Linked DNA regions of Homo sapiens: region 1 is linked to region 2. A link means that fine-mapping ties the variant in region 2 to the expression of a gene that starts in the linked region. Tissue or cell type: whole blood. Region 2 holds a variant in brackets; the other region holds the start of a gene. Each region is shown on its reference strand, or each on the opposite one.

Evidence for each region. PIP is the estimated chance that this variant, and not a neighbour inherited with it, causes the effect. A credible set is the group of variants that fine-mapping cannot tell apart.
Region 1: it holds the start of C4BPA, and the variant in region 2 is the best candidate, but not a certain one, in a credible set for the expression of C4BPA in whole blood (TOPMed, PIP 0.53).

What each region holds. Positions count from the first base shown.
Region 1 is chr1:207,101,820-207,106,222 of GRCh38, forward strand. C4BPA (complement component 4 binding protein alpha) reads left to right here and starts at 2,414. Exons shown (of 12, transcript NM_000715.4): 1 at 2,414-2,611.
Region 2 is chr7:50,249,821-50,254,223 of GRCh38, forward strand. No RefSeq gene overlaps it. Among named protein-coding and RNA genes, the nearest start is that of IKZF1, 53 kb to the right of the region's middle. The variant C/A (reference allele first, on the strand shown) is at 1,881.

The DNA.
Region 1 (4,403 bases), not on the chromosome of region 2:
TTGCACAGAGGCAGAAAAAATGGGATATGTTTAGGAACTTGCACATAGCCTGGACTGGCCTAGATGAAGCATGGAAATTGGTGAGAGAGAAGGTGGCTGGAAAGATAAGTCAAAGCCAGTTTATGGAGGCTTTTGAATGACGTGCTAGAGAATATACACTTGTTTTTGGTAGGCAGAGAATATACATTTGTTTTTTGGCAGTCAGACCATGAAGACATGGAAGCCTTGCAAACAATGAAGTAATAAGGACAGAACATAAAGAAAGATTTCTCTCACAATGTTGGTTGTAGTATTGGTTGATGAGGGAAAAGAACTAAGAGAAACCAACGAAAGGACTCCTACAATAGTCCATATGGGAGGCATTATCAACCTGAACTGGTTTGGTGGCAGCAGAAATGAAAAAGCAGCAGCAGACACGAGAGATATTGAAAACTTGTATCAAAACAACCTGTCAACTAATCAAACATTGAAGGGTGAGGGAGAGGAAGAGTTCAAAAGTGAATCTGAAATTTTATTCCCGAGAACCAGAGGTCAGAAAAAGCTGGGGTCAGAAAGTGAAGCTTGTTGGCCGGAAATGAGAAATTCCTCTTTGGATGTGCTGAGGGTGAAGTGCTTGCAAGATGTCCAGTGGGGGGAAAAAAAAAACAAAACCTAAGAAAGTAAGTCTTGAGTTTCGGAGAGTAATCAGAAATAATAATGTAGTGCTGGCTAGTCTTCTTACTGGTAATAGTTAAAGCTGTGACAGAAGGCAAGATCATTAAAATTGCGAAGATAATTTTTTTAAAAAAAGAAGAGCCTGAGATATATCTATATTTAGGAATGAGAAGGAGGAAGAGAAGGTAACAGTAACTAAGAAAGAGAAATTAGTTAAGTTAAGGGAATCAGGTAAGTTTAGTGTCATGGAAGCCAAAGGAGAAGAGAGTTTCAGAAAGGAAATGATCAGCAGTGACAAAGGCTGCAGACAGATCCTAAGAAATGAATTAAAGATATTTTGGACTTGGACCTAAGGGCGTGCCTCAGAGAGACATGTCAGTAGAAGAGTGGTAGAAGCCAGATGGGAAAGCAACAGGTGGAGTGATGAATGAGAAAGAACAGGCAGGTAGAACAAGTCACACCTTTGAGAAGTTCAGCATCACACTAAAGAAGAAAGGTGGAATTTGAGGTATTGGCAAAATTGAAGGGACATTTCAGGATGAGAGATGCATTGAAAATGAGGCAGGAAAAGAAGAAACAATTCTCCTCGGAATGAGGAGTGAATAGGAGGGAAAATTTGACATTGATGAAGCTAAGGTAGAATGATTTTTAGTAAAGTAGGAGGTAAGAGCATCTGCTGAGAGGGAATGTGACAATTTGGTGACCTGGAGAGAAAAATCTGCAAGAGTCACTGTGGAAAGTAAACGAAAGGACTTCAATACATTGGAAAACGGTACTTTAAAGAAATAGCAGCTTTAAAGGTGATATTTCTTCCAATTTAGTCTCAAGACTGTGCAATCTGGAATCCTCCTCTATCTTCATTCTGGTCAAATCAGTGTCTCACCTTGGTGACCTAGCGCATGGTTTCTTTACATCTAATATCCTTACCACTTTTATCTAATAATTTCTACCTTTTATCCAAATCTCACATCTTCTGTAGAAACTTCCTTGATTAACTCAACCTGTTGTAGTTTAGTTCCTTTTCTGAAACTCTTCTGGGACTTTCAGTATTTATTACAGAAAAAGTGAAGTTCTCAGAAAGAATTGCCTTTTAATAGCAATCTTCTGAGCACACAAATCTTAACCTTGAGGATTAGTAGCTTAATTGGACTATGTAAGTGCTTGTGGTCTTTTTAGATCTATGCGAGAGGAAACATGGCCGGTCCTTCATTGCGTTCTTCTGAGCGCACTGGATAGATCAATTTTTGGAGGCCCTCTGGTGCCTGACATGTAGTAGCAGTTAACATTTGCTGAACTCCAAATACGTTCTAGATAACTCAGCACATAGTGGAAACCCAATGCATGTTTGATAAATTCCCCACCTTTTGTAATTCCTTGGGGTGGGATAGAGACGAGCTCTGGGCAAGAATATCAGTTTTCAAACTCCAGGAAAGCATACTGGACCTAGTGTCATGGAAAGTGGATCATTTTTGCGGAGGCTCTCTGAACCTCGCAGTATCCAAGGTTTCCAGGCTAGCTGGACTGTGTCTTGCCATAACCCTTATGTGTTTATGAAAAGAAAAAAGAATTCTGGCTTCAAATTCAAATTACCTTTCCACTTAGGGGAAATGGTTGGCAGAGGAGAAAATAAACGATTGCGACATGTTACGAAGAATGAGGACTAGCAAAGAGGAAGGAGCTTAGGTAAACAGTGCTGCTTTATTTCTGCTGTTAATCATTCATTGGGCCCGTCAAAAGTTTCTGCCCATCTATTTCCATCAACCGTCCTTGACCAGCCAACCACATGGCTGAAATTCAGGGACTCTTTGGTGGAGCAATTACCAGTCAACTTCAGGGTATTATGATAAACTCTGATCTGGGGAGGAACCAGGACTACATAGATCAAGGCAGTTTTCTTCTTTGAGAAACTATCCCAGATATCATCATAGAGTCTTCTGCTCTTCCTCAACTACCAAAGGTCGGTGGACTACTAAACCCTTGGGGAAGCTTGGAGGAAAGGCTGGTGGTTTGGCCCTTTAAGGAGTGCAGGATTAGAAGGATAAAACAGAGACAAAAGCTTGGAGGTGTTTTCAGCAGAAATCTTTTCAGGAGCACTGTATTAGGGGGATGTAAGACTTGAGACGTACTTTAAACCCTATCTGAACCTCAAGTTTTAAAAATTATAAATGGAGGAATAATATTGCATTCTAATAAAATAAGCTAAAGAAGAAGAGGTGTAAGGTGTTGCTCTTGTTACTGTATCTAAAAGACAGATGTGTTGGTTTGTTGATCTTTCACCACCTTCCCACATCAGAGTTGAGGCAAGGGGTCAATCAGACTTTTCAAAGGGTTCACAGGAAGCTTGCTTTTCTTAGTCTACATTCTGAAAACTGGGGCCATTTCTATTTTGAGATTTGATTAACCACTCCAAATCTCCTCCACCACTGACAGCAAAGATGTTTAGATTTGGTAATAAGGAGGACACTGGCCAGCCTCCAGTTGGTTTCTGAAGCTAGCAGTCTTAGTCGTCCTCATCTTCTTTACTTTCTGAATTTGACGATGCTGATAACCCTTCCTTCTTGAAATTCTCTTCTTCCTTGGTTGGCCAGGATACAGTACCATTCTGGTCCTCATTTTAATTCTTCAACCACTTGTCTCTTTGCTGATTCCTATTCTATCTCTAAATATGGTAACACCAAAAGAATAAAAAGTAGACTACAGAAGAGGCAGAAGCATCAAAGAAGGTTGGCATTAAGCTTAGAGATATGTTTGAATGTAGTATGAGCACAGAATAAAGGGGCTGATAGAAAAATAAAGAGATTTGGCCAGGTACGGTGGCTCACTCCTGTAATCCCAGCACTTTGGGAGGCCGAGGCTGGCGGATCACCTGAGGTCGGGAGTTCGAGACCAGCCTGACCAACATGGAGAACCCCTGTCTCTACTAAAATTACAAAATTAGCCAGGCATGGTGGCACATGTCTGTAATCCCAGCTACTTGGGAGGCTGAGGCAGGAGGATCATTTGAACCAGGGAGGCAGAGGTTGGGGTGAGCTGAGATCGTGCCATTGCACTCTAGTCTGGGCAACAAGAGTGAAACTCCACCTCAAAAAAAAAAAAAAAAGAAAAAAAAAAGAGATTCTAGGAAGGGTGGGGAAAGTGTGGGAGCCAGTTCTTTCTGGAGTTTGTAAGTGATATAATTGAGAGCCCAGGTATAAGGAAGAAGACACTCAGCCCGAGACTGGAGAAAAATACTATCCTTTCACAAGGTATCTGCATTTTAAAAGGGGGAAGTTAGACAAAATAAATATTAACTTAAAAAGTAACTTCTCATGGAAGGAGAAATTTGAGGACTAAAGATTTTTCCAGTGACTCTCAAATTGCACTGCATTGCTAAGTGCTGATATTATTTTTCACAAGGGACCCGCCATGCTGACTAAAGTTCTTGAGTTGGTTCCATTTCTGCAGGAATTTAAAAGGTGAAGTCCTTGAAATATGAAAGTTGGCTAGAGTAGTCTCAGCTTTTCAGTGAGCAGTTACAGAATTGCAGAATTTGTTCATCTAGGTTTAATGTCATTATTTTAGAGATGGAGGGAACTGATATCCAAGAAGCTGATATAGCTTCTTCAAGATCACAGACTTAGACTGTGGTATTGCTGGAACTCCAACTTGTGTCTTCTCAGCTCGCAAGTTCTAGCCTCCATTCCCATACTCTGTGGCCAGCTGGTTTCTGCTGAGGGACCACCAGGAGTAGTTATGGTGAACTGCAAATG
Region 2 (4,403 bases):
TAAACATAATATTAATAGATGTACAAATTTAGAAGACCTAAACAAAAAAATTAGATATCTGTATAGGAAGACTTAATATATTAAGATGTTAATTATCTTCAAATTCATCCTTCTATTCAAGAAAAATCCAAATTTCCAGCAGGTAATTGGTTACATCAAGCTAGCTCTAAAATTTATATGTAAGAGCCAACAGTCAAAAATGAGCATTGCTGAAGGGAAGAATACATTGGAAGGATGGACATTATCACATATCAAGACATACTATAAAAATATGATCATTGAGATATGTTTTATTTGTATAGAGATAAACAAATATACTTACAGAATAGAGTACCCAGAAACAGACTTAACAAAAAAATAGAAACCCAGTTATGACAGCTAGCATTGAAGAACATGGGAAAATGGACAGCAACAATTACTTTTACATAGGGAAGAAAATGAACTAGGATTCCTATCTCACATAATACACTAAAATCGTTTCAAGGTAAATTTATGACATAAATGTTAAAAGCAAAACTATAAAAGTTTTGAAAGGCAATGTAGTAGACTATTACCATGTATAGGGAAAACTTTCTTAAAGAGTCGAAAAACACATTCGCAGAAATGATTAACCAATTGGTCTGAAAATTGAGGTACAATGAAGACGTGAAAAGATGATACACATCGGAATAAAATATTTACAACACAGATCACTGAGCAAGTATTTTTTAAAACATATAAAAGAGTCCCAATATATAGATACAAAAAAGACAATTCGATGGAGAAGTGAACAAATTACTTCAATGGGTACTTCATGCAAGAGAAAAATAAAATATGAAAAAGATGCTCAATCTCATTAGTAAGCAGGGGAATTCCAATCAAAGCCACAATTATATTACAGTGGCAAGAAGCTTAAAGATTGACAATATCAAGTGCCTAGGACATTGTGGGACAGAGGAGTAGTGAGTACTTTCTGTGCCTAACACACAGGAGGGCGGTTGTGTAACCAGTGTTACAAAGGGTGTTCCTTGACCATGAAAAGCAAGTCCAACAAAAGAGTGAAGAAGCCAAGTGGTTTTAAGTGCAAATCAAAGTCCCTCAAGTTAAAGCAAAACCAGTCACACTGACTATATTTTCAATGTATTCATTTAGTGCACCTAAAATCCATTCAGTGTCCAAAACTCTGATGATCAAATTAATTCAAATAACAATATCACAAAATCATAGTAATGTGCAAACCAGCTGCCATCTATTTTTGTAGCCATAGTGAGAGATTATATTTTAGATGATGATAAAATAGTCACTAAAATGATTTTTAAATTGTTAAACTATTACAAGCATAGTCAGTACTTATTATGCTTTATTATGATCTGAAAGTCACACAAGTTTGTAAACTATCATTATTATAAGAACTGTTTTAAAACAGATGACAGGGGTTGTGTTTTTTCGTTATTGTTGTTTTGTTTTCTGTCTTTTAAGACATTTTCTGTGAAGCAATAGATTCATGAAGGAGAGAGAACAGCATTGATAGGAAGTAACTAAAACTTCATTTCATTCAGCTTGTGCACATGTACCCTAAAACTTAAAGTATAATAAAAAAAAGTTAATAGATCCTCCATGAGCTTTAATATCCAATGTCCTCATTGTGAAGTTGCCTCAATTACGTGTGCTACAATTTGCAAACCAGTTAAAAATAAAAATGATAAATTGGCAACTAAGTTCAGCCAGTCCTGGAATTCTAAAATTCTAGGATACACCATTGATTACTGGTAAAAATACGAAGATTCTCCATCATCTTGAATTTTATAATTCTGACAGCTTTATGGAAGGAACATATTCTGCCATTGTCCTGGGCATCACTCTACAAGCTTTCTTGCTTGTAAGTAGATCTGAGCCAAGTG[C/A]CAGGGCTGCAGAAGCAAGTTCTAGGGCTTTGGAGTCAGACAGCATTGGATTCCCACTGAATTAAGTACTGTGCTTCTGCGCCTAGCCTCAGGTTTACTATGTATAAATGAAGTCTAAATAACCACCTGGTGGGCTAGTGCAAGTATTAAGCACAATAATGCCTCTGAAAGGCCCAGGACATTCTTGGAACAGAGAAGCTCTGTTTCTGCTCAGCCTGTCTCCATTCCTGCCTGATTAGCTCAGGACGCCACAGAGAGCAGGAGGGGCAGCCACATAACAGGTTGGGGGGTGTGTCCATTGGACCAGCTTGCATATCATCTCACCTCTGACTGCACTGTCACTGGCCCTCATGTGCTCTCCCTTCTTTGTCTGCTAAGACCCTCCCAATGGTTTGCTGTTGACATCCAACCTCAGCTCTGTTCCCTAGACTCCGATGCACATCTCTCCTCTCCAGAACCTGCCTCTATGGAGTGGCATTAAACATCTGCCATCCTGAGCCCTCGCTGGTATGGTCCCAAGACCTCCCACAAATGTCACAAGTACCACCAGATACCTGAAACATTCTTTCCCCAACTCTTGTCAGAATGTCCCAACCATAGGCTCTCAGCTTCAGTTCTGCCTGCCTGGTGACATGCCGGCCTGAGGCAGTAGGACAGCCTTGCATGTTTGGCAATAGAGCTGTGCTTCTCTGAATGATTTAGGAATGATCTGGGTATATTAAAAAACTAAAAATCCAAGGTGTCTATTATGATACATGATTGCCAAATCTGCCACTCTTTATCTCCCAGTTGTTCCTTGTCCCATTACAATTTGGTTTAGAATTAACCCATTCCCTCCAACCGTTCTTGCTGGCTTGTAATTGTAATATGTATGCAATGGACACAAAATCTGAAGCATCTCTTCCTGAGTCCCGGTCTGCCTCTAACTTGCTTTGTAAATAGTCACTCTGTCTGTTTAAAGTGTCTCCACCCTCTTCCTTCTATCTTCTGTTAAGCTACAGGAATGCTGTTTTCTAAAATGCCATCCTTTATGGAAAGATCATGACATTCCTTTCCATAAAATCCTAAAATGTCAAACATAAGAATCATTTGGTTCTTTGTAATACAGCTCTAGCTTTACCTCCCACTATTTTTTCAAAACCTAATATGTACCTTATATTTATTTCTTCATGTATCTTACATTACAAACATATAGACCCATGTGCACTTTTCCAAATTGATCATATTCTTTCTTTTTACAGTAATGTTTTCTGGAAACAATCTCAAATTTAGAGATAAGTTTCAAGAACACTACTAAAAAGTTTGTACCTTCAAATCATTGATGGCAGGTTGTGGACATAATGCTCAATCTATCCCAAACTAGAGTACATTTTCTAAAAACAAATAAATTACCCAAAAACATATTCCATAAGTCTATCAAAATACAAAACTAAAATTGTTATATGACTGCCATTCAATCCACAAACCCAATTCAAGTATCGTCATTTGGTCCAAAATATCCTTTATAGCAAAGGGATCAAGTTTAGAAACATGCATTGCTTTTAGTTATAATTTCTCTTTAGTCTTCTTCAACCTGAAAAAGTTACTCAGTATCTCCTTGACTTTCATGTTCTTGACAGGTTTGAAGAATACAGGCCAGGTGTTTTAGGAATTTCTCCCAATTTGGATTTGCCTGGTGTCTCCTCATGATTTGCTGTGCTGTGATTTGTCTTGCTGTGTCCTATCAAGTGAAACACAGTTTCGATTTGTTTCATTACTAGTGATGTTGACTTTGATTGCTTAAAGTGGTAAGTGTCATGTTTCTTCACTGTAAAATTGTTTTTTTCCTTTTTAATTGAGGGTTTTATGGGTAGCTGCTTTGAGAGACTATGCAAATATCCCATGCCTCATTAAAGTTATAATTTGTTCACTTATTTATTGTCTATATCACTATGAACTATTGGTTCCCTATTAAATTCAGTGGATTACAATCCATTACTATACTGATGTATTTTAATGTTTAAATTCTTCTAGATTTGAACAGTGGGACCCTCTTCAAGTTTTCTTCTGTGTCCTTTTAATGTGTTCCTTTTCAAACCTTAACAACTTTCTTACTTTATCACAGCAAACTATTCCAAGCTCATGTCATATTTTCTCTGTTCTAGCTTTGAAATCAACCATTATTCCAAAGATCCATGGTTCCCATTTGGTGGAAATGGTATTGCAAAACCAAGAGCTGGATCTAGGTGTACTCATTGCTATTGAATGTTGCTGTTTCTACTATTTCTTGGAGACAGAGCTAGGGCATATCATTGTATAAATACCTACACATAGGTGATAATATGGACAAATCTACAGATAGCTTCGATTTCAATTCAGAACCATAGTTTTAGTTTGGTTCCTTTATATTTCTAACATCCTTCTCCAACAATAAGAAACTAGCTCTCATTATTCTTAATATTTATTTGATTAATCTCCTTGGCCATAACCAATCTCCCTCTCCTGCACTGATGCCTCTTTAATCCCAGTTGGCCCAGACACCTC